Linked DNA regions of Homo sapiens. The protein of the gene in region 1 interacts with the protein of each later gene in a pairwise test. Each region holds a gene or a part of one and is shown in the gene's direction. Other genes may lie near its edges. The genes, in order: TSHR, ASPHD1, TMEM119, MOG, ADORA1 and SLC9D1.

The links.
Region 2: the proteins of TSHR (region 1) and ASPHD1 interact in a two-hybrid assay, tested with the Homo sapiens proteins (one large-scale study listed by BioGRID and IntAct).
Region 3: the proteins of TSHR (region 1) and TMEM119 interact in a two-hybrid assay, tested with the Homo sapiens proteins (one large-scale study listed by BioGRID and IntAct).
Region 4: the proteins of TSHR (region 1) and MOG interact in a two-hybrid assay, tested with the Homo sapiens proteins (one large-scale study listed by BioGRID and IntAct).
Region 5: the proteins of TSHR (region 1) and ADORA1 interact in a two-hybrid assay, tested with the Homo sapiens proteins (one large-scale study listed by BioGRID and IntAct).
Region 6: the proteins of TSHR (region 1) and SLC9D1 interact in a two-hybrid assay, tested with the Homo sapiens proteins (one large-scale study listed by BioGRID and IntAct).

The regions. Positions count from the first base shown.
Region 1 is NC_000014.9:81,088,121-81,091,620, forward strand, and holds part of TSHR (thyrotropin receptor isoform 1 precursor), read left to right. Parts: exon of another isoform or gene 1-2,948; coding exon 2,949-3,023; exon of another isoform or gene 3,024-3,500. UniProt on the Homo sapiens protein: Receptor for the thyroid-stimulating hormone (TSH) or thyrotropin. Also acts as a receptor for the heterodimeric glycoprotein hormone (GPHA2:GPHB5) or thyrostimulin. The activity of this receptor is mediated by G proteins which activate adenylate cyclase.
Region 2 is NC_000016.10:29,899,123-29,903,287, forward strand, and holds the start of ASPHD1 (aspartate beta-hydroxylase domain-containing protein 1), read left to right. Parts: upstream 1-1,365; 5' UTR 1,366-1,849; coding exon 1,850-2,798; intron 2,799-4,165.
Region 3 is NC_000012.12:108,592,218-108,595,084, reverse strand, and holds part of TMEM119 (transmembrane protein 119 precursor), read left to right. Parts: intron 1-539; exon of another isoform or gene 540-748; intron 749-2,687; 5' UTR 2,688-2,701; coding exon 2,702-2,867. UniProt on the Homo sapiens protein: Plays an important role in bone formation and normal bone mineralization. Promotes the differentiation of myoblasts into osteoblasts.
Region 4 is NC_000006.12:29,655,763-29,659,891, forward strand, and holds the start of MOG (myelin-oligodendrocyte glycoprotein isoform alpha1 precursor), read left to right. Parts: upstream 1-1,329; 5' UTR 1,330-1,447; coding exon 1,448-1,535; intron 1,536-3,556; coding exon 3,557-3,904; intron 3,905-4,129.
Region 5 is NC_000001.11:203,126,330-203,130,525, forward strand, and holds the start of ADORA1 (adenosine receptor A1), read left to right. Parts: upstream 1-1,396; 5' UTR 1,397-1,599; intron 1,600-1,948; 5' UTR 1,949-1,985; coding exon of another isoform or gene 1,986-2,103; intron 2,104-2,455; 5' UTR 2,456-2,512; coding exon 2,513-2,853; exon of another isoform or gene 2,854-2,928; intron 2,929-4,196. UniProt on the Homo sapiens protein: Receptor for adenosine. The activity of this receptor is mediated by G proteins which inhibit adenylyl cyclase.
Region 6 is NC_000013.11:113,489,701-113,493,820, forward strand, and holds the start of SLC9D1 (transmembrane and coiled-coil domain-containing protein 3 isoform 1 precursor), read left to right. Parts: upstream 1-1,320; 5' UTR 1,321-1,573; exon of another isoform or gene 1,574-4,120. Other genes in the region: DCUN1D2 (DCN1-like protein 2), read right to left, coding at 733-969. UniProt on the Homo sapiens protein: Probable Na(+)/H(+) antiporter.

The DNA.
Region 1 (3,500 bases):
GTCCAGGTTCATTTTAATGGTGTATAGCCTGGGTCGGGGGCAAGGTATCGGGTGAAATGATCCACATTTTTAAAACCTATTCAAAAGTCAGCACATAATGCTGGAACCAGAGACCTGCTCCAAGAAACAGGAGGGAGAAAATGCTATCATGTATATGTGGTCCTTAAATGTAGTATTTCAGAACAAAACAAAACAAAATTCTGAGAGCCAGTTGGTCAATTTTGTTTGAAAATGGGTATCACAACAATATTATTAGAGTGGCTGTTACACAGGAAAAAAAACCCACAAAGAGTAAAATACACTTCCATGGGGAGTGGAGGGAAAACAGAAGGGACAACAGTTTCAACCTCCCACTCCAGCACTCAAATGTCCAGCACTCACTGCTTTGCTTTGAAAACACCTTATGAGCTAACCATAAGCTCCATGAATCCAGGGACCACAACATTTTTTTTCTCTGTTGAATCTTTACTGCCTAGTACAGAGTAGGCGCTCAGTACAAATGTGTTCAGTGGATGTGTCTGTATGACCTCAGGCCCCCTGGATACCAGGTGGAAGAGTCCTTTTTCCTACTTGCATGCATTATAAAGATTAGAAAACAAAGAGTATGAAGAAGAAAATTGTTAAAAAAAACTTAATCCCAAACCCCAAAATAAGCACTATTAACATTTCAGTTCATCTTCATCCAGACCTTCAAAACAAACTTATGTTATCATAGATATTTTATGAGATAAGCCCTTAAGGATGAATAGAGGGTATCTTGAACAAGAATGGGGAGATAGAAAAGAAATTTAGCTGGATGGAATAGCATGATAAAGACACAAATGTAGGGAACCACGCAGCTTCTTTGGGGAACTAAAAATAGTTGCTTTTTTTTTTTTTTTTTTGAGATAGAGTCTTGCTCTGTTGCCCCAGGCTGGAGTGCAGTGGTGTGATCTTGGCTCACTGCAACCGCCACTTCCTGCATTCAAGCGATTCTCCTGCCTCAGCCTCCCGAGTAGCTGGGATTACAGGTGTGCACCACCATGCCCAGCTAATTTTTGTATTTTTAGTAGAGATGGGGTTTCACCATGTTGGCCAGGCTGGTGTCGAACTCCTGACCTCAGGTGATCCACCCGCCTCAGCCTCCCAAAGTGCTGGGACTACAGGCATGAGCCACTGTGCCTGGCCAATAGTTGTATATTGAAGAGGTGGGTGTGAGAGATGCCAGGGGAATGGAAGACACTGATGGGATATGAAGATGAAAGGATGTCTGGAAAGCCATGAAAGCTTATGGGACAAGACAATCACTCTTCTTATGGACTCTGAGTTTCAAATAATACAATAACCCTTTGATGTGATGATCCCCCACTATATGCTCTGTGGGGAACATACAGGTTTCTAAGACATTGTCCTTGCCTGTAATCTAGTTGAGGAGATGTGTATGAAATTGAAAAGTGCCTCTCCTACAGAAGAATAATGGAAAGTGACGAAGGAGAGACATATACAGTGTTTGGGGGTTCAGGTAATTAGAGAAGACATCAGAAAGAAGACCCACAGCATGGTTTTAAGGGACTTGTTTGAGATTTTTGAAGAATAGAAAGATCTTGATCCAAGTATATGGACCCCACTTGACTCTTGGACCTTTTTCCCTCCTACTGTTCTTCATGAGCACCTATTGCAATTGAACTAGTTCGTTTACTGTATTTCAAATATACCTTATGGAATCTCACCTCTCTCCTTTGTTATCTGGAATGTCCCTCCCATTTGCTGATTTTGAGACCTCTGGCTCCTGCTGCCTCTTCAAATCCTATGCCTTCTTCTCTAGAAGGAGTCAAGTCTGAATTTGCCTCAGAAGGAGTATCAATGGATATAGTTTTTCTACCAGAAGACCTTCTCTAGAGCTTTACTGAGTAGTGTCTAGATCTCACTCTATGCTATGCCAAATTCTCAAAAAAAAAAAAATTCTAATTACATTCAAGTAGCTGCAACAAATGTTAAAACAACTAAATCTGGGAGGCATCAGGAGCCTGAGAATTCTTGTATTCATGGTGTTTTATGCATGTCTTTTAATCTTAACATTTTTCTGTAGATGATATAAACTACAGAAGGTAAAGACTTTGTCTTTGATTGGTTTCCTTCCTTTTCTGGACACTGTCTTTTTTTGAGACAGAGTCGCCCTCTGTCACCCAGGCTGGAGTGCAGTGGCATGATCTCGGCTCACTGCAACCTCCACCTCCCAGGTTCAAGTGATTCTCATGCCTCAGCCTCCCAAGTAGCTGGGATTACAGGCGCATGCCAACACATGCAGCTAATTTTTGTATTTTTAGTAGAGACAGGGTTTCGCCATGTTAGGCTAGTCTTGAATTCCTGGACTCAAGTGATCCACCTGCCTTGGCCTCCCAAAGTGTTAGGATTATAGGCGTGAGCCCCTGTGCCCGGCTCTCTGGACATATTTTTTTAAATGGTACTGTTATAATGGTACTCTCAGGTCACTGCTGTAGGAAAGATATTCTTGGCAAAATAACAGCATAATATCATGTAGAGCTTGAAAGAGGAAGCTGGCTTAAAGTCATCATATCTTCCTGTCCCATCTTCTTCTTAGCCCTTCACTAACAAACACATAATTTTTTCCAATTAAACGAGAAAATCACACACACACACACACGAAAACTGAATTTATATTTCTAGTAAACCCACTTGGTTAAAACAATCTCCAGAGCATTCTAAGCCGAGCAGATGTATTGACACCAGTGGACTGGATTAAATTATTATGCCTTGAGGGAATATCATCTCATCCAACCATCAGAACTTGCCCATAGTTACTCAGATATTTAGGGAAGGTGTTGGGAGTTTGACTACAGGTTGTCTTCAGAACCCATGCTTTCAGCTATTACATTATTCTCCTTCCTATGTGTTGATTTTTTTACCTAAATTCTATGCTTTTTTTTCTCTTTTTTTCATTAATTTAGTGGCATTTTCAACACTGGACTTAAAATGTTCCCTGACCTGACCAAAGTTTATTCCACTGATATATTCTTTATACTGTAAGTATGCACACATGCCATGTTTGACAATATTTTGTTTGTCACTGACAAGAACTAGAATACAGTCATGAGGGTAGGTTGAAGATAAGTAAAGCAATTGTTTCAAGGAGTAAGCAATGATCAGGTGTGACTACACTGGCATGAAGTAAGGCAAGGACTGAGAAATAACCACTGGCTTTAGCAATGTGGTTTGTTGGTGACTCTGCCAAGAACAGTTCCAGTGGAGTGCTGGTTGGAGTGGGCTCAAGAGAGACTTGGGTAGACAGAATTAGAAAGAGTTACCATAATTAACTCTTTTGAGAGGTTTTACTATTAAAAGGAGCAGAAAATAGCTCAGTAATTGCAAGATATTGAGTCAGGAGAAAAGATTTTGTTTGTGTGTTTTTGTTTTTAAATGGAAGAAATTATGCAATGTTTCTTTGCCAATGGGAATGGTTGAATAGAAGGAATATTTGATGATAACTATGATACCTTATT
Region 2 (4,165 bases), on another chromosome or scaffold:
TTTTTTTTTTCCTCGTAGGAGTCAGCAAAGAAAGACAATTTCTCTGCCCCTTGGGATGGAGGGGCAGAATTGGGCTAGGGGTCGCCTGGAGCCCACCCCCCTTTGCTCAGTCTCCTCTGTCCTCTTCTCGCGGCTCTGTGGTGGAGGGGGCGCGGCTCCGGCTGCAGGGGGTGGGGCCGAGAGGGCCGAAGGGGCCGGGTGGCCTGGGTTACCCTCCTGCTCAGGCGCCTGGGTCCACTGGGCTGTCTGGACCCCAAGCTAGGGGACTGGGGAGGAGAAAGACAGCTTCTGGGGGTTTAGGGTGGGGTCGAGGATCGAGGGGGTCTCCACTGGGCTCTAGCGGGGCTTGTCGGGGAGGGGAAGGGGTGGGTTGGGGAACTGGGAGAGCCGAAGCTCGGGCACTGGAGCTGCGGGAGGGAGAAGCTGAGAAAGGTATCGAGCCCACGTCAGATCCTGGGGACGGGCGGAGGGAGGGGCCTGGGATTTATTTGACGGGGAGGGAGGAGGAGGAAGTGCAGATGGAGGAGGGAGGGATCATACGAGCCAGGGCCGTAATCCTCACTCCCGCGGCCCCTAGGGGAGGCAAAGGAAACTCTCTGGTCCCAGCAGTAATTAGCCCCCTCCGCCTGCCATTCCAGCACATCTGGAATCTGAATCTCCTCTTCCCAGGGTGCCGAGGGGCTGCATAGCTTGGTTCGCGCCTGCTAGGCCCCCAATTATGCCCCCTGTTCACATTCAGACCTCCCAAGGGGCTTCCCTTCCCCTTTTACAGTAGCTCGGGTGGAATGGGCTCTCCCTCCTCCAGGGGAATAGAGAGCTTCCACGATTGTGACAAGTCTCGTGGGTGACGGGCCGGGGTTTGGGGAGGAGAGACAGACCCCTCCTCTTCCATAAACCCTGACCCCGGCCAGCTAACAGGCGGCCTCGGCTCTGATTTTCCCTCCGGAGCGCCCTTTTCAGCACCAGCGGCGCGCGGACAGCTCCCCTCGCCCCGCCGGGGCGGGCCCGGCCCGACGCCGCCCGCGATTGGCTGAGGCCGCTTTCGGTGTTTGCCAGGCTCGCGGGCTCCCGGGCTGCCTAGGGCCAGCGGGAGTCACAGGCCGACCGACCGACGGACCAGCCGCCCGACGGACTGGCCTCAGCATCCTTGCCCGCAGTCCCGGGCGCCTGCCCAGCCGTCAGTCCGCGCTCGCCCCGCCCCTCAGGCCCCGCCCCTCAGGCCCCGCCCGATACGACCCGCCCCTTCTTTCGCATTGCGGGACGGCTGGAGGCTGGCACCGTGGCCCCTGCGCCCCACGTGGCGCCCTTTCCGGGCGGGGGGGGTGGGGAGGCACCTCCAGCGACAACTCTCCCCCCTCCCCCGGCACCCGGCTGATTTGCTGTGCCACTGGGAGGGTTCGGGGGTGGCTGAGCTGAGAGGGCTCCGGGAAGGAGTGACGTCAGGGTGAGTGGGAGCCCAGGAAGGAGCGAGTAGGAGAGAGGGAGCGAGAGCCAGGCAGGACCGCAGGGTCGGGGCTAGTGAGGAGCGAGGGCAAGGAGAGAGCAGTGAGGCCGGAGAGAAAGAAGCTGCCGCGGAGGAAGACAGGCTGCGGGTTCCCGGGACTGCAGGTCCAGGCAGGGTAGGAACCGCTGCCCAGGGGAGCTAGGAGGAAGCGGGGAGAGAGAGCGAGCGAAAAGCGGGGGTGGGGAGGAAAGGGGGAGATTGAGGTGGGAGAGAGAAGCAGAGCGAGAGAGAGGAGGCTGCTGGAAGGAGAAAGAAGAGGGTGAGGAGGCGACAGAGGGAGAGGAGGAAGAAGAGGTAGAAGGAGAGAGAAAGGGGAGAGAAAGGAGAGAGGAGGGTTGGAGGTGCATGAAGGAGGGGAGAGGGAGCTTCAGCGTGGAGAGAGGACCGCGGAAGGAGAGAGAGACAGCCCAGAGTGGAATGTGGAAGGGAAACAGTCCAGCGGGGAGCCAGGGGGCAGCCATGGAAGGGACAGGTGGGGAGCTGGGGGGACAGGGGAACTGGGGTCCGGAGGACGCCCCAGGCCTCTTGGCCAGGGCCTCCCTGATCATGCTCCCGTGGCCACTACCCCTGGCCTCCTCGGCCCTCACCTTGCTCTTCGGGGCCCTCACTTCCCTGTTCCTCTGGTACTGCTACCGCCTGGGCTCCCAAGACATGCAGGCCCTAGGGGCTGGGAGCCGAGCTGGGGGTGTTCGTGGTGGGCCTGTGGGATGCTCGGAGGCCGGCGGGCCAAGCCCAGGGGGTCCTGGGGATCCCGGGGAAGGACCTAGGACGGAAGGCCTAGTGAGCCGGCGGCTTCGGGCCTACGCAAGGCGCTACTCCTGGGCTGGGATGGGTAGAGTGAGGCGGGCAGCTCAGGGTGGCCCAGGCCCTGGGAGAGGGCCAGGGGTCCTAGGTATTCAGCGCCCAGGCCTGCTTTTCCTACCAGACCTGCCTTCAGCCCCCTTTGTGCCGCGGGACGCCCAGCGGCACGACGTGGAGCTCCTGGAGAGCAGCTTCCCTGCCATTTTGCGGGACTTCGGGGCTGTGAGCTGGGACTTCTCAGGGACTACCCCTCCGCCTCGGGGCTGGTCCCCACCTCTGGCCCCCGGGTGCTACCAGCTCCTGCTGTACCAAGCAGGCCGGTGCCAACCCAGCAACTGCCGCCGGTGCCCGGGGGCCTATCGGGCACTGAGGGGGCTTCGAAGCTTTATGAGTGCCAACACCTTCGGCAATGCCGGCTTTTCCGTTCTCCTGCCTGGGGCCCGGCTCGAGGGCCGCTGTGGGCCCACCAATGCCCGGGTCAGATGCCATCTGGGTAAGTAGCTGCCGCCTACTGACAACCTCCTTGCCTCGATGATTTCCCCCCCAGACCCTTCTCTCCGCCAGAGCCGTCTGCTGTCTGGTTCTCATTGTGCCTCTCTTCTTCCATGGCTCCCTGTTGCCACCCACAGCAGCATTTCCTCAGCCTCGGTTATCTGCACACCACCTTCATAAGCTTTGCCGTGGTCATTCCCATCTGTACTGCGTTTCTTCACCTTGGCTCTCCCCCCGACCTTTTGTTCTACGTATTTAAAAGAAATATTTATAGCACTATCAGTATTACTTGCCCTAAATAGTACTCATAAAAAGCCTGGACAACACAGTGAGACCTTGTCTCTACAAATAATAAAACAATTAGCCGGGCGCGGTGGCCCATGCCTATGGTCCCAGCTACTGGAGAGGGTGAGGTGGGAGGTTCACTGGAGCTCAGCAGTTTGAGGCTGCAGTGAGCTGAGATTGTGCTACTGCACTCCAGCCTGGGTGACAAGAAAGTACTCATAAACACAAGCTGAAATTTAAAAAAGAAAGCTTTCAACAGTCTAGAACATTCTAGTTAAGTGCTCTAGTCTCTCTGATCCTGAAGCCTACACTTTTTTCTTTTTTGAGGAGTCTCGCTCTGTCGCCCAGGCGAGAGTGCAGTGGCACGATCTTGGCTCACTGCAAGCTCCACCTCCCGGGTTCATACCATTCTCCTGCCTCAGCCTCCCGAGTATCTGGGACTACAGGCACCTGCCACTACACCTGGCTAATTTTTTTTTATTTTGTATTTTTAGTGAAGACAGGGTTTCACCATGTTAGCCAGGATGGTCTCCATCTCCTGACCTCGTGATCAATCCGCCTCGGCCTCCCAAAGTGCTGGGATTACAGGCATGAGCCACCGTGCCTAGCCCTACACCTTCTTTTTTAAAAGGGTTGGTGGGGTGTCAAAGTTACAGTAGCACCAAACTGAGATTTTTTCTTTTTCTTTTTTTTTTTTTTTTGAGACAGGGTCTCACTCTGTCACCCAGGCTGGAGTGCAGTGGCACAAACATGGCTCACTACAGCCTTAACCTCCTGAGATCAAAGGATCCTCTCACCTCAGCCTCCTGAGTAGCTGGGACCACAGGTGCCCACCACCATGCTTGGCTGATTTTTTAAAAATTTACGTAGGCCAGGCGCGGTGGCTCACGCCTGTAATCCCAGCACTTTGGGAGGCTGAGGCAGGCGGATCACCTGAGGCTGGGAGTTCGAGACCAGCTGACCAACATGGAGAAATCCTGTCTCTACTAAAATTACAGAAAATTAGCTGGGTGTGGTGTCGCATGCCTGTAATCCCAGCTACTCGGGAGGCCGAGGCAGGAGAATCACTTGAACTCGGGAGGC
Region 3 (2,867 bases), on another chromosome or scaffold:
TGTCTCTGAACCTCTGTTTCCTCATCTGTAAAATGGGGATAATGAAGCTGCCTCAGGGCTCCTGTAGGATTAAAGGCATGAAAAGGGCTTAGATGAGTACCCGCGAGGAAAGCACAGGTGACCAGCTCATTTAAAATGAGCCCCTGAGAAGCTTTGTCTCTTTTTTAAAAAATTGAAATATTTTAATATATTTCATAGAGATGGAGGTTTCCTTATGTTGCCCAGGCTGGTCTTGAACTCCTGGGCTCAAGCGATCCTCCCAAGTAGCTGGGACTACAGGCATACACCACCAGGCCTGGCTACTTTTTTATTTTTTTGTAGAGGTGGGGTCTTACTATGTTGCTCAAACTCCTGCCCTCAATCAATCCTCCGGCCTCGGCCTCCCAAAGTGCTGGGATTACAAGTGTGAGCCACCACACCTGGCCAATTTTGCCTCTTTTTATGTCCTGGAATTATTTTTTTATTTTTTCCATCTAAGCCAGTTTGTTCACATTTAATTTCTTTTTTTTCTTTTCTTTCTTTCTTTTTTTTTTTGACAGGTTCTTGCTCTGTCACCCAGGCTGGAGTGCAGTGCCAACTCCGCTCACTGCAGCCTCAACTTCCCGGGCTCAGGCGATTCTCCCACCTCGGTCTCCTCGGTACCTGGGACCACAAGTGTGCGCCACTAGGCCTGGCTAATTTTTGGTGTTTTTAGTAGAGACAGAATTTTGCCGTGTTGACCAGGCTGGTCTTGAACTCCTGAGCTCAGGTGATCCTCCCACCTTGGCCTCCCAAAGTGCTGGGATTACAGGCATGAGCCACCGCACCCAGCTGATGCGATCCATTTCAATGAAAGCTGTGTCACAGAGAAGCCTCAGGTCACCTGGAACAAGCCCCTCAATGGCCCAACCTGGTTCCTACCTCACCTCCAGAATCCTCACGGTACCTGTGGGGAAGGTAGTGTCCTCTGCTTCACCAAGCAGGCCCTGAGGCCCAGGTGCTGGAGATGTGACCGCAGCCGAGGCCTTGGGAGCCTGGCTTCCTCCTCCAGCCCGGAACTTGCTGTGTGGCCCTGGGCCTGCCCTTTGCCTTCTCCGGGCCTCTGTCTCTCCACCTCAGTTCCCTGAGGCCTCAGGACAGGAGATCCTAAGGCTTTTCTGTGTTGAAGCTTCTAGACCCAAGCCCGCTTCCGGGACCTGAGCCCTCTGCTGGGCCGGGCAGGGGTTCTCAGAGGACAGTGCAGTGAATTGTCCCTGGGTTTGAGCAGCTGGGAGCCCCCAGCTCACATTGGCTGGGAGAGACAGTGTTTTGAAACTCAGCTCCTCTGTCAACTCTGGCTATGAGGAATTAATTCATCAGCCGGGCTGTCTGGGCCAGGTGGGGTCTTGGGGTTCACCCGGGAGCAGCCTTCCATCAGGGCAGGGAGGCCCCCGGCTCATCTGGTTCCCATCTAGTGGGGGCGGGGCGCATCGGCAGCTCAGCTTTGTCTTGGGAACCAGGACTTCCCCACCCTGGGGCCCATCCTGGCTCCTGCTTGGAGCCTGGGGGTGAGGGCAGCCACAGGGGGCTGTCCATGCATGCCCCTGGCATCCATGACCCCTGCCTAGCTCAGAGACCTGGAGGCTTCAAACCCTACGAATCTTTTTTTTTTTTTCTTCTTGAGATAGGTTCTCGCTCTGTCACCTAGGCTGGAGTGTGCAGTGGCGCGATCTCGGCTCACTGCAACCTCCGCCTCCCAGGTTCAAGCGATTTTCCTGCCTCAGCCTCCTAAGTAGGTGGGATTACAGGGGCACGACACCATGCCTGCCTGATTTTTGTATTTTTAGTAGAGATGGGGTTTCACCATGATGGCCAGGCTGGTCTTGAGCTCCTGACCTCAAGTGATCTGCCCACCTCGGCCTCCCAAAGTGCTGGGATTACAGGCGTGAGCCACTGCGCCTGCCCTGCTAGGAATCTTTTGCAGAATAAGGTAGAGCTGGGCTGGCGGAAGGTTTGAGAAAGCCCCTGAACCACCAGGTTGTGGCCGCGCGGAGCCACTTTGGCCACCCAGTGCATGGGGGCCAGACCCTGAGGGGAACGGGACCACAGAGAGGCTGGGGACTGAAGGGAAGGGTCCCAGAGTTGTGGGTAGGGGGTGAGGTGTCACTCAGCAACCTCAGTCACTCAATCGGTTTCTCACTTACTCAGCCCTACTATCATTTCTCCCTCTCTGCTTGGATCCAGACCCAGCTCTTCCCTGGCAAGTCACCACGTCCCTCTCAGCCTCTGTTTTTTCATCTGCAAAATGGGCCTAATCATAGAACTTCCCACACTGGGCAGTGATCAGGATTCATTGAGAAGTTCCATGTAAGAAACTTAAAACAGTGGCTGACACATAAAGTCATGAAAGTGTAAATTATCATTATTAATTCAGCCACGTCAGTCAGGGTACATTTATTGAGCACTTACTGAATACCAGATATGGGGCCAAACCCTGAGGAGGCCGAGATGAATAAGATTCAGCCCCTGACCTCCGGGACCTCCAGAGAAGTGGGGGAGCACATCTGTACTCCACAGCTGAACCAGCGGGGCTCAGGCCCTGGGAATGGAAGGGACTTGCTAGAAGGTGTTTCATGCTCCCTGTTCCTCCTGGGGGCTGGTGAGCCTGTTTCTGAATCCTGACACTCTAGAGTTCCGCCATGACTTCTCTCCTCCCTCCTGTCTCACAGGTCCTGGGGGCACCATGGTTTCGGCGGCAGCCCCCAGCCTCCTCATCCTTCTGTTGCTGCTCCTGGGGTCTGTGCCTGCTACCGACGCCCGCTCTGTGCCCCTGAAGGCCACGTTCCTGGAGGATGTGGCGGGTAGTGGGGAGGCCGAGGGCTCGTCGGCCTCCTCCCCGAGCCTCCCGC
Region 4 (4,129 bases), on another chromosome or scaffold:
AAAAGCCAGAGATCCACAGCGGCCACTTTTTCCATGGGATTGACCCCTGCAATCTTGACTTTCAACCACACAGCACCAGAGTAGCCAAACATTGCTTGTGTCCAAACGCTGGCTGCCTTGAAGGGTGAAAGAATAAGCAGTTCCCAAACTCAGCTGACCTTAATGTCCTTCTAGCTCCTTACGCCCATCTCGGACAAAAGCAGAAATGTATGTCTCAGTTGTGTTTCTACCCCTTGCTGCCCAATATAAATTTTTGTGTTGCCCAATATAATTTTTTGTGACGATGGAAATGTTCTGTATTTGTGTTGTCTGATGAGATAACCACTAACTGTAGTGCTATTGAGCATTTGAAACATGGCTAGTGTAATCAATGAACCAAATTTTTAATTTTATTTAATTGTAATTAATTTTAAGTGGCCACATGCAGGGAGTGACTGCTGCATTGGACAGCACGGCTCTAAATTGAGCCTTTTTTCCTTATTTGGTGAGGCATACTTGCCTTAAGATTGGGAAGTCTATTTTTGGAACCTGCTACCAATGCTGGTCTCACACTTGCAATTCTCAGCTGAGCCAAGAGGTGAGAGAAAGGTCATTTTCCATTCCAGATCTCACTCTCCCCTGTGACACTGAGGAAACTGGCAAGTGATGTGAAGGCTGGAGAGCGTGTCCTGTATGCTGGCTCTGTCCCTTCTGCCTGTGTTGACTGACATAGTTAGTTGCTGCCCTTGCTGGTCTCCCTTCCTCCAACCTTGCCTCTCTGAGCACACCTGACATTCATCTCATGACTTCCCTAAAAACATTCTTTGGGAACAAGAAACTAACAAATCCCAAGTGACCTATCACATATACAAACATACAGGGCAGAGTTTGGATTCGCGGTAGAAGAAAGGGAGGTTAGACATTAAGAAGAATGGTCTGGTGATGACAGTTGTGAGATAATAGAAACAGGAAAAAGAAATCTAAGTTTTCTTTCTTTTTTTAAGAACCAATAATAATTTCTCTCTTTTGACTAGTCAGTAGGGCTGGGGTGGATTGGAGGAAGCTTACATATTCCATGAACAAGCCTCTTCCTAAGGTCCTGTAAGTGATCCTGCCCCACTGATTAGCCCCTAGAAGACCCTTCAAAGGTTGGATCTCCAGGAGGGAGTGGGGGAGGAAAGCCCTGTACCAGGCAGCCTCTGCTCCATTGCTCTGGGGGGGTGGGGAAGGCAAACCCTGGTCATCCCCTCAGTCTGTAGCCCTTTTGTGTGAGTGCCTGGCAAGGGTGACGTGGGGCTGTTTCTGCGGGCACAGCTGCAGCAATTACCGGAGTGGAGGCAGGGCCCAGGCAGCACTGCCCTCCAAGATCTTCCCTTGGGCTTTTCAGCAGTAAGGGGACATGCACCCCAAGGGCCTCCACTTGGCCTGACCTTGCTGCGGGGGCTCTCTGTCCCCAGGAACAGTAGAGATGGCAAGCTTATCAAGACCCTCTCTGCCCAGCTGCCTCTGCTCCTTCCTCCTCCTCCTCCTCCTCCAAGTGTCTTCCAGCTATGCAGGTAAGACATGTTTTTTTTCCTGCCCTGGGGAGACCCTGAAAACAGAAAGGCTAGTTTCCTGGGGCTTAGCTCCTTCAAACATCCTCAAGTTGCTATATTATCTTTCTAAAACATAGACCTACTGACATGCCTCCCTTCCTCAGAAACCTTCCGTGGGTGGTTCTTACAGCCTTCAAGATGGAGTCCAGACTCTTTTTTTTTTTTGAGACAGAGTCTCCCTCTGTTGCTCAGGCTGGAGTGCAGTGGCATGATCTCGGCTCACTGCAACCTCAGCCTCCCTGGTTCAAGCGATTCTCCTGACTTGGCCTCCCAAGTAGCGGAGACTACAGGCGCCTGCCACCACACCCAGCTAAATTTTTTCTTTTCTTTTTTTTTTTTTTTTTTTTTGTATTTTAGTACAGACGGGGTTTCACATGTTGGCCAGGATGGTCTCGATCTCTTGACCTGCTGATCCGCCCGCCTCAGCTTCCCAAAGTACTGGGATTATGGGCGTGAGCCACTGCACTAGGCCTAATTTTTTTATTTTTAGTAGAGATGGGGTTTCACCATGTTGGCCAGGCTGGTCTGGAACCCCTGACCTCAAGTGGTCTGCCCTCCTCAGCCTCCCAAAGTGCTGAGATTACAGGCATGAGCCATTGCGTCTGACCCAGACTCCTTAATGTGACTAACTCAAGGCTTTCCTTGAACTACTTCTTACTTGTCTTTCCAGCTTTGTCTTTTCACCTCTCAAATTGAGATAAAATAATAACAACCTCTTGGAGTTCTCATCAGGATTACATGAAATGAGATATGTAACATGCTTAGCAGTGCCTGTCCATAGTAAATCTCAATAAATGTTTGTGGAATTATAATATCTTGTCATGTTTGAGACTTTGCTCTGCATAATCAGGCACCAGTAGGTTTTTATAAAGGAACCCGGCTGTCACGTGCAGAGGAGAAATAAACAGAAAGTTTCCCATCCTCAGGGAGCCACCTGACTGACAGAGGCACAGTGCATCCACTCTCCAGGTCTAGGGGAGAAAGCAGCCTTATTTCTTAGTAGCTCAGAATCTGACTTGAGAAACACATCCACATAGAAAAAAACAAGGAACTTTTTCGGGTCAGGGTCCGGGAGCCACAGTGAGGTGGAAGATACAGGGGAAGGAAGAGGGAAATAGAGCCATCCCCAGGGTGGAAGATCTCAGAAGAGAATTTGGGAAACAAGGTATGAACAAGGACTGAATAGTGAGAAGTGATGGAGAGACAGTTAAAGTAGATGGAGTGACAAAAGCAAAACCTCTAAGGGTAGAATAGGCAGCAATTTGGCCAAGTCCTAACAGGGAGGCCCATAGGAGGATTCAACCTCAAGATGCTGTGCCACATTCCAAGAGGGAACCTAAAGGCTGGGCTGAAGAGTCAGAGATGGCTACAGCTGGCAAAAAGATGGGCAGATGCTGAGAGGAGATGATTGCTAAAATGTTCTGTCCAGGACATTCACAGTATCTCTATAACCAGAGTCTTTTTTGTCGTTGTTGTTCTCAAGAAGGAAACTTGAGGCCGGGTGTGGTGGTTTATGCCCATAATCCCAGCGCTTTGGGGCCAAGGCAGGCGGATCACCTGAGGTCAGGAGTTCGAGACCAGCCTGGCCAACAGTGTGAAACCTCATCTTTACTAAAAATACAAAAATTAGCTGGATGCGGCGGTAGGTGCCTGTAATGCCAGCTACTCGGGAGGCTGAGGCAGGAGAATCACTTGAACCTGGGAGGCGGAGGTTGCAGGGAGGCGGAGGTTGCAGTGAGCCAAGATTGCACCACTGCACTCCAGCCTGGGCGACAGAGAGTAAGACTGTCTCAAAAAATAAATGAATAAATAAAAAGGAAGAAGAAGAAGAAGAACAATTGCAATCCTCCCTGGCTCTAGAATGTCATTTAAAAGTCGAGTGTCTTCTTCCTTCCCTGTTTTGAAGCAGCCCTTCTCATGACAGGCTTGCTTGCCAAGGTTCCCTCTGACCTTAAATCTCTTCCTTTTGGTGTCTTGGACAGGGCAGTTCAGAGTGATAGGACCAAGACACCCTATCCGGGCTCTGGTCGGGGATGAAGTGGAATTGCCATGTCGCATATCTCCTGGGAAGAACGCTACAGGCATGGAGGTGGGGTGGTACCGCCCCCCCTTCTCTAGGGTGGTTCATCTCTACAGAAATGGCAAGGACCAAGATGGAGACCAGGCACCTGAATATCGGGGCCGGACAGAGCTGCTGAAAGATGCTATTGGTGAGGGAAAGGTGACTCTCAGGATCCGGAATGTAAGGTTCTCAGATGAAGGAGGTTTCACCTGCTTCTTCCGAGATCATTCTTACCAAGAGGAGGCAGCAATGGAATTGAAAGTAGAAGGTGAGTAGTGCCATATAATATTAGGTATTAACTGTTGGGTGGCCAAGAACAATTATTCTCTCAACTGAGATGAGATCCCTCAACCCAAACATCTCAGTCCTGGGAATGATTTCCATAAAAATGTACACATCAATAAACAGAAACTCATGCTTAGGGATGTCTGTTGCATCATTATTCAGAGTAGCAAGGAAATTGGGATCAAAATCAATGCCTTTGAGTAGGTAA
Region 5 (4,196 bases), on another chromosome or scaffold:
GGCCTGCATGTCTGGGTGGCAGGGGGAGTAGGCAGGACGTCAGGTGCTGTTGGGCGTGTTGACAAAGTCAGCAGGGGAAGTGCAAGGGGACGAGGAGGAAGGAGAGTTTACACTTCCTAATTTCTCCAACTAGCTTCTAGGGAAGGAATGTAATTTTGCTGTCTGAGGCACTGATTCCTTGCTCCCCCTAAAGGCAGAAATGGAAGTTATTTTTCCCCACAGAGGGCTTCCCCCTCCTCCTCAGAAGACTCAACTGCCCTTCCTCCCTGCCTCCCAGCTACCCAGGTTCCGGGTCCCACATCATTCCTCACTGTGATTCAGTGCAGCCCCCAATGGGAGCAACGTGCCCACCCTCCTCTGGGCAGAACCCTTTTCCTTGCATTCTGAGATCCAGTGAGGGGGGCAGTACCCCCAGAGGCCAGGTTGGGTTGTGGCTAGCTAACATTGGGGTCCCCAGCCTGACTCTCTTTGCCTTCCTAGAACCCTTGCCCAATACCCACAAACAAGGATTTCTCAGGTTGGGATCTCTGCGAGGCATCCATCCATGTCCAGGGTCTGGTCATTAGTTAATATCAGTGGACTGCCTAAACCGAAACTGGCAGAAGGTGGCCAGGGGAGGGGTCTGGACCCAGTGGAGAGAGTCAGGAGCCTGGGATTCTTATTTTGGTCCTGTTAGGATTTGCCCTGTGACCCTCCGGAAGTCCCTTGCTTCCCTGAGCCTGCTTCTTTATCTGTAACATGAGGGGATTGGACTGGATGCCTTATGGCTTAGCGCTGTGCTATGAAGAGGAAGAAGGAGGAAGGAAAAGGAGCGCAGAGCGGGTTACACTGCCAGGAGATCCTGGGAAGCTAGGTCACTTCCCTGAGCCTCAGCATCCTTATCTGCAAAATAGAAATTGCTAATAGACTAAAAGGCAATTCTGAAAGATGGATGAGAAAGGAATATAATGACTCAGGGTAGAGCCTGCAAAACAATATGGGATGAGAAGATGCAGGGACTGGTTTCATGGAGAGAGCAGGGTTTTAGGATTGGGGGAGGGTGCCAGGGCTACCGACTGCTTTGGGAGATCCCAGAGGGGGCATTCTGAAGTCCTGCAGAAGAGATGCTGTGCCGTGAGGGGTGAGGGGTCGCTGGAGGCCAGACCAGGGCTCCCAGGAGTCCTGCATTGAGAAGGGAGAGAGTGGACACAGGAAGGATGCGCCTCTGTCCAGTCCTGAGGCTGGGCGCACACACCAGGCCCTTCGAAAAGCTCACATTTTTTCCAGCTTTTCTCACCCAGTATCACTTCCTTTGTTAAGAGGAGGGGGTGGGGGAGGAGACGGAGGATGAGGAGGGAGGGGCTGGCGGGTGCCGCCGCCGCCCCCGCCCCCTCCCGGTGTGCGGAGCCCGATTGTCACTCAGCTCCTGCGCCGGGGGCGACAGAGCCGCAGGCGCCCGAGTCGAGTCCCAGCCAGCTACCATCCCTCTGGAGCTTACCGGCCGGCCTTGGCTTCCCCAGGAATCCCTGGAGCTAGCGGCTGCTGAAGGCGTCGAGGTGTGGGGGCACTTGGACAGAACAGTCAGGCAGCCGGGAGCTCTGCCAGCTTTGGTGACCTTGGGTAAGTCTGAGTCTCGGTTCACCCCTGGGGCTCCCCAATGGGGGTGCAGGAGAGGGTTGAAAGAAGAGACCGGAATGCCCCCTTGGGGCAGGCCATGGGCAAGGTTCCCCGACAGAGCTGGAACGGGACCAGAGGACTGCTAAGATCCAGGCACCAGACGGGTCTCAAGTGGGTGGGCGCAGGGCAGGTGCGGGCACGCTGGGGAATAGGGAGAAACGCCCCAGCCTTGTCCTGGGCTCCGTCCCCAGACCCACGTCTGCCACCCCAGTCCCAGGTGCGAAACAGGGGCGCTACCTCTTTAAAAGCGTCCGGGGCTGAGTCTCTGCCGTACCATGTGATTGCTTGAAAGGCCGGGCTGGGAGCGCTGCGGCGGGAGCCGGAGGACTATGAGCTGCCGCGCGTTGTCCAGAGCCCAGCCCAGCCCTACCGCGCGCGGCCCGGAGCTCTGTTCCCTGGAACTTTGGGCACTGCCTCTGGGACCCCTGCCGGCCAGCAGGCAGGATGGTGAGCTCCCTGCATCCTGTTCTGTGCACAGGGGTGGGCAGAGCCAGTCATGGGAGACCCCTCTGTGCGTGTGTCTGTGTGTGCGCGCGCGCTGGGAGCTGCCTCACACCTGATAAAAAAGCCAGTGGAGGAGTGAGCGCTGCTATTTTAAGTTGCTGAATGGAACCTCTGGGAATGATAAAGGGAAGGGACAAAGATTAGGCAGAGAAGGGTCCGGGTGCCCCTCCAGCCTGGGTAGGAGCTGCATGTGACAAGTGGGACACATCACAGGGTACCTGGAGTTCCAGGGCAGCCTGAGCTCCCTGCCCCTCCCAGACGGGTCTCCCCATCCCAGGCTTCCCTGACCACACAGGTGCTTGCCTCGTGCCCCTTGGTGCCCGTCTGCTGATGTGCCCAGCCTGTGCCCGCCATGCCGCCCTCCATCTCAGCTTTCCAGGCCGCCTACATCGGCATCGAGGTGCTCATCGCCCTGGTCTCTGTGCCCGGGAACGTGCTGGTGATCTGGGCGGTGAAGGTGAACCAGGCGCTGCGGGATGCCACCTTCTGCTTCATCGTGTCGCTGGCGGTGGCTGATGTGGCCGTGGGTGCCCTGGTCATCCCCCTCGCCATCCTCATCAACATTGGGCCACAGACCTACTTCCACACCTGCCTCATGGTTGCCTGTCCGGTCCTCATCCTCACCCAGAGCTCCATCCTGGCCCTGCTGGCAATTGCTGTGGACCGCTACCTCCGGGTCAAGATCCCTCTCCGGTGAGTCCACAGCGCCGAAGGTACTCGCAGCACCACATGATGGCTGGCTTGAGGGCCATCTAGAAAGGAAAAAAGGTAGAGCATAAGACCCCAAGTAAGCCAGATGTTCTTTGGGCCATCGTGCTCCAGTCCTCACTCTGCCTTTCCGTGCTCCGCTCTGCAGGGCCAGAGAAACAGGAGGGGGATGGGTGGCTGGAGGACTGTACTGTGAACTTACCAGTGCCCATGACCTCAGAGCTGAAGCTCTTGCAGCCAGGGAACCTGAGGCTGCCTGTCAGGCCTGGGGTGGAGGTGGGAGATTTGGAAGAGCCACTAAGATGGGGTCACAGTGAGTGCTGGGTAGGAATGAGCTGAGCTCTGCCAGTCCCAGGGAAGAGGAAGAGGAAGAGGCAGAGAAGAGAGTTAGGGTGGGGTGGGAACATACTGAGGGTGGCACAACAGGGGCAGGAGTGCTGCTTCTCCAGCCAGACCACGGCAGGCTTCCCAAAGGCACGCTTTGGCTCTCTCATTCACCAGGTATCTCTGTGCTAGCCAGCTGTTCCTTCCAGGGCTTTCCAGCTGAACCCAACAGTCTGATTACCTTTGCCTCACTCCCACTTATGGGACCTCTGTTACAGACAGGAGGAAGGAAAAATGCTGGTGCCTACTTCTCATATTGCTGTTCTGTTGCAAAACCACCTCTTTGCTGGTCACAGTAGAGGTGCTTGTGCTGCTCCCAGGCAGCACTGGGATGGGTGGCCTGCTGGTGCCGTCCTCAGTGTGGGTGTCCAGCCCATGTTGGAGCTCCCTGCCAGGCCACAATCTCATCACCAGGCAGTGCCTTGGGCCACCAAGTGCCAGCGAGTGCCTGGGCATATTGCCAGGGACTGGCCCTGCTGGGACGCTCTTGTGAGGCATGCTTGCCCCCTCTTTGAATTCTTGCCCCCAGTAGATTCCTTTTCTCCTGGGGAGCTCTGGCCATCTCCAGCACCTGCCACCCCCGGCATAGCTTCTCTGGGATGTAGGGCCTCTGACCTCACTTGGCCCCTTGCCCGGGCAGGCCTAGGGACCCATGTTTCTCCCTTTGTGTTACATTTGTGCACATTTAACTTTTCAAAGCCTTTCTTACATGCATGATTTTTTCCTGTTATCATCACGCCGCTGTAAGGGAGGTGGAGCAGGAGCTTTTAAAGGGGGAAACTAAGACTCAGAGGGTCTCCTTGAAGCTCACTCAGAAGTGTGATCTAATTATCTGCCTTCCTTCCTGATTCCCCATGCCCAGTGGCTTGATGCCAGTCTCTCTGCCCTGTCTACCTCCCTCCACCCTCCAGGTTTTCCAGGGAAGGTGGGGTGAATAAGGGAAC
Region 6 (4,120 bases), on another chromosome or scaffold:
GGGTCTGTGCATTCTGTTTCTTCTGCCTGGAGCCGCACACGGCTGGCTGCCCCGGAACCTCACTTTTTCTCTGGCTAATTTCCAGAGAAATTCTCCACAGTTCAACTCACACCCTCAGCATCTGACACCACTCCCACAGCCGCATCCTACAAGTTCCTGGAACCCGTGCCTTAGCCTTTGTCCCAACTGTGGTCAAACAATTGTGCATCTGGTGCCTGTCTCCCCTGCTGGGGCATCAACTCCCTCAACGCCAAGATCATGCCTGGCCCAGCACCAGTCACACCCAGCAGCACCTTGCTGGCCTCTGAACCGATGTGGACTGAATAAATCCCATCCATCACCATTTCCACCACATTTCAAAGTAACTGATGTGCACCTCCAGCAGCCTCCCTCCTGCGCTGCGGAACTCTACCAGCTCCACAGATGCACACCTACAGCCACGCTACAGCTCCCGGCTAGAGCCCGCGCTAGGGCCCCGCTGTGCCTCTCCCTCCCCTCCCGGCAGCAGGGCCTCCCCCGCGAATCTGAGCTTCTCGCGGATTCCTTCCTTGCGCTGTTTTGGTCAACAGCCTCAGCATCTGCACAGACGCCCGCAGGAGCAGCCGAGCCCTCGCCCGCCTCGACTGCCCGTTTCGAAGCCGCCCTGGGAAGCCCCCGGCCTGGGTTCCCGCTCGGCCCCGGCCCCTGCCCCAAGGCCCCTACAGTTCCTCCCGGCCCCCGCCCTCCGCTCACTCCCGGTCGTCCCTCGCGGCTCCGGGTCAAACCCGCGCTCCCCGCGGTCCCGCGCCTCCGACGCCACCGCTCCGGCTCGCGGGCCCGCGGCGCGTTCCTCCCTCGGATCCACGCGGAACGCCCCGCGCAGCTCGCTGGGCTCGGCCTCCCACATCCAGCGCGCCGCCTGCGCCGACCTTGGGGCCCGACCCCGACCCCGACCCCGACGGGCAGAGGCGACGCCGGGCCACCTACCATCTCCCCCGCGCCGCCCGCTTCTGGCCGGCCCCGGCCTTCTGCGCAGGCGCGGCGGCGGCTCCGCCCTCGTCCTCGGACGGCCGCGGCCCTCGGCTCCGGGGCAGTGCCGGGAGCCGGCCGCGGGGACTCCCACTCCCGGCATGCTCAGCGCCGCCCGGGGGCCCACGGGAGCTCGCGCCCCACAGCCCCTGCGCGTCCAGCCCTCTGCGAGGGCCTTGGCTCGCCCCTGCGGGGTCCAACGCCAGCCTGCGGCTGCCAGGCCCCACGCCGGCCAGGAAGTGCTCGCCGCCCGCGGCCGACGGGACCCGCCCACGCCCCGCCTCTTAAAGGGGGCAGTGACTGCGGCTGGGCGGGAGTCCGGGTCGGCTTGGCTGAGCGGGGGCGGTGCTGGGCAGGGCGGCGGCCGCTCCCTCCCGGACTCCCGGCCTCCCGGCCTCCCTGGTCCCGCCTGGGAAGGGATGCAAGGAAGCCCTCCGGCGCTGCGCTCCGAGGCGGGAGACAGCGTCCCCCTCCGCCCCTCGGGTCCTGGCGCCTCAGAGCCCGGCCCAGGCCGCGGAACGGTGATGCTCGGGCCGGACGGGCGGGCGCGGATCCCTGCGTCCCGGTGAGCACCAGGCCCGTCCATCCGGGGCTCTTTCCCGGGGTCCCCTTCCTTCCCTCCCTCCCTGGGGCTCCCCTCCCCTCTCTCCCTCCCCGGGGCTCACCTTCCCTTCTTCCCTTCCCAAGGGTCCCCTTCCTTCCTTCCCTCCCTCCCTGGGGCTCCCCTCTCTCCCTCCCCGGGGCTCCCATTCCCTTCTTCCCTTCCCAGGGGTCCCCTTCCTTCCTTCCCTCCCTCCCTGGGGCTCCCCTCCTCTCTCTCCCTCCCTGGGGCTCACCTCCCCTCTCTCTCTCCTCGGGGCTCCCCTTTTCTTGCAGGTATTGTCTCCCGGGGTCGGGTGGTCTGTGTGGCCTGGGGTCCCGCTCCTCCAGGCCTTGCCTAGGCGCTCTTCGCTGAGGCCCACGTTCTAACCTGGAATGGAACCTGCGTTCCCACCCTGGCCGCCCGGGTGGACTCGGGGCCTCCAGGGCCGGCCGCAGAGATGCAGCCCTGTCCCTGGCCCCCCTCCTGTGACTCCTAACGGCTCCTCACGGTGTCCATGACCCAGGGTGTGGACGCCTGCGCGGGGGAAGCAAGACCGCTGCGTATCGGGTCCCTATTCACTGCCTGTTTTTCTGATTATTCTGTCTTCCAAATTTATCTTATTTACCGGCTTTTTCAAAAGGAGTGTCTTAATGATTGGATTACTTGTGAAATATTTGTAGTTTTTTTCTCCTACAGGCTTGACTTAAATATTCTAAAGCTTTTTTGTGGTTGTTGAGACAGAGTTTTGCTGTCGCCCAGGCTGGAGTGCAGTGGCTGGTCAAGGCTCAAGCGATTCTCCCGCCTCAGCCTCCCCAGGAGCTGGGGCCACAGGGAGCATCACGCCCGGCTAATTATTTCATTTTTAATAGAGACAGGGTCTTGCTGTGTTGCCCAGGATGATCTCCAACTCCTGACCTCAAGCAGTTCGCCCACCTCAGCCTCCCAGAGCGCTGGGAATACAGATAATTGTGTCGTAATACAGCAGTGGCATTAACCACCGCACCTGGTCTTAGGTAGAATTTGAAAACCTTTTTATTTTGAGATGGTTGTAGATCACATGAAGTTGTAAGGAGTAATACAGAGAAATCCTACAGAGTGCCTTTGCCCTGTTTTCTCCAATGGTAGCACCTTGCAAAACCATAGTATATGTGGGGAATTTTCTTTGATCAAATCCCCTGACCTGTTGAGATTGCACCAACTATACATGCACTAGTGAGTGTGAATCTACACCTGTGTGTCTTCTCAATAAAATTGAGATTTTTTTTCACTCAGCCTTGAGATACATCCGCATTGTTATGTGTATCAATTGCTCAAGATGCAGAAATTCTAAGAATTCATTATTTAAAAAGTAATCCCAGCACTTTGGGAGGCTGAGGTGGGTGGATCACCTGAGGTCAGGAGTTTGAGACCAGCCTGGCCAACATGGCAAAACACCGTCTCTACTAAAAATACAAAAATTAGCTGGGTGTGGTGGCGAGCGCCTGTAATTCCAGCTACTTGGGAGGCTGAGGCAGGAGAATTGCTTGAACCCGGGAGGCAAAGGTTGCAGTGAGCTGAGATCACAACACTGCACTCCAGCCTGGGTGACAAGAGCAAAACTCCGTCTCAAACAGCAACAACAACAAAAAAAACACATTACAGGAATCCAAAGTGTCTTTTTAATAACTAGAACAGCTAAAGATGTTTACTAATTTGCTCAAAAAACATGCTACAATTTAGTAGTCAGTAGGATTTTGGAGGCAAGTTTGAAGATAAAATGAAATGAGTTTGAATAAAGGTGATTTGTATTTTAAGGGTCCATAAATAATTTCAGTTTCATGTTATGAGTATGTTTCAGTGGGAAATTTTAGTATAACTACAACTAAAATCCTCAAAGGTTTCTCATAAAAATTATAGCTCCCTTAGAGGGACAACTAATTTTAGGAACCTGATTGAGGAAGGAACCAGAAATGAACATAGAGGTGTCATTCACACATGAGCTGTGTTGAAACTTATTTTTCTGAAGCATAAAATCCATCAAAGAATCACTTTTTGGGATCTTTTGGGGAAACTGGGAAGTGTAAGCAAAGCATCTCAGATTTCTGTCTTGGTTCTGGAAAATACTAAAAGTTCACTTGTGAAGTAGCTGTTGATTTATTTAGCTCCGTTGGACCAACCGAGAGAAGCTTAGCAGTTGAGTGAGTCATTAAAATAACAGCTCAGCTATATGGCTAGGCATGACTAAGTGATTGCCTCATTGTTTGTTTTTAAGGTGGTAAATGTGTACTTAAAGTTGTACACGTGTACTTAAAGTTGTATTGAAACTAACATAAAATTGAGTGATTGGAACAGCACATTATCATTTATCCTATCTTGTTAGGAAGTTACCTGTTCTAGGTAAGTGAATTCTCTGTGGAGTGTGCTTCTCCTTTTGGGAGTCAGTCTCCAAGAATGTTTTGAATTGAACACTTTCTAACCAGAATATAGTCTTTTCTTGGTGACTTTTGCTTGTAATTCTGATCAGTACTGTTGTCTAACACAGTACTGTCT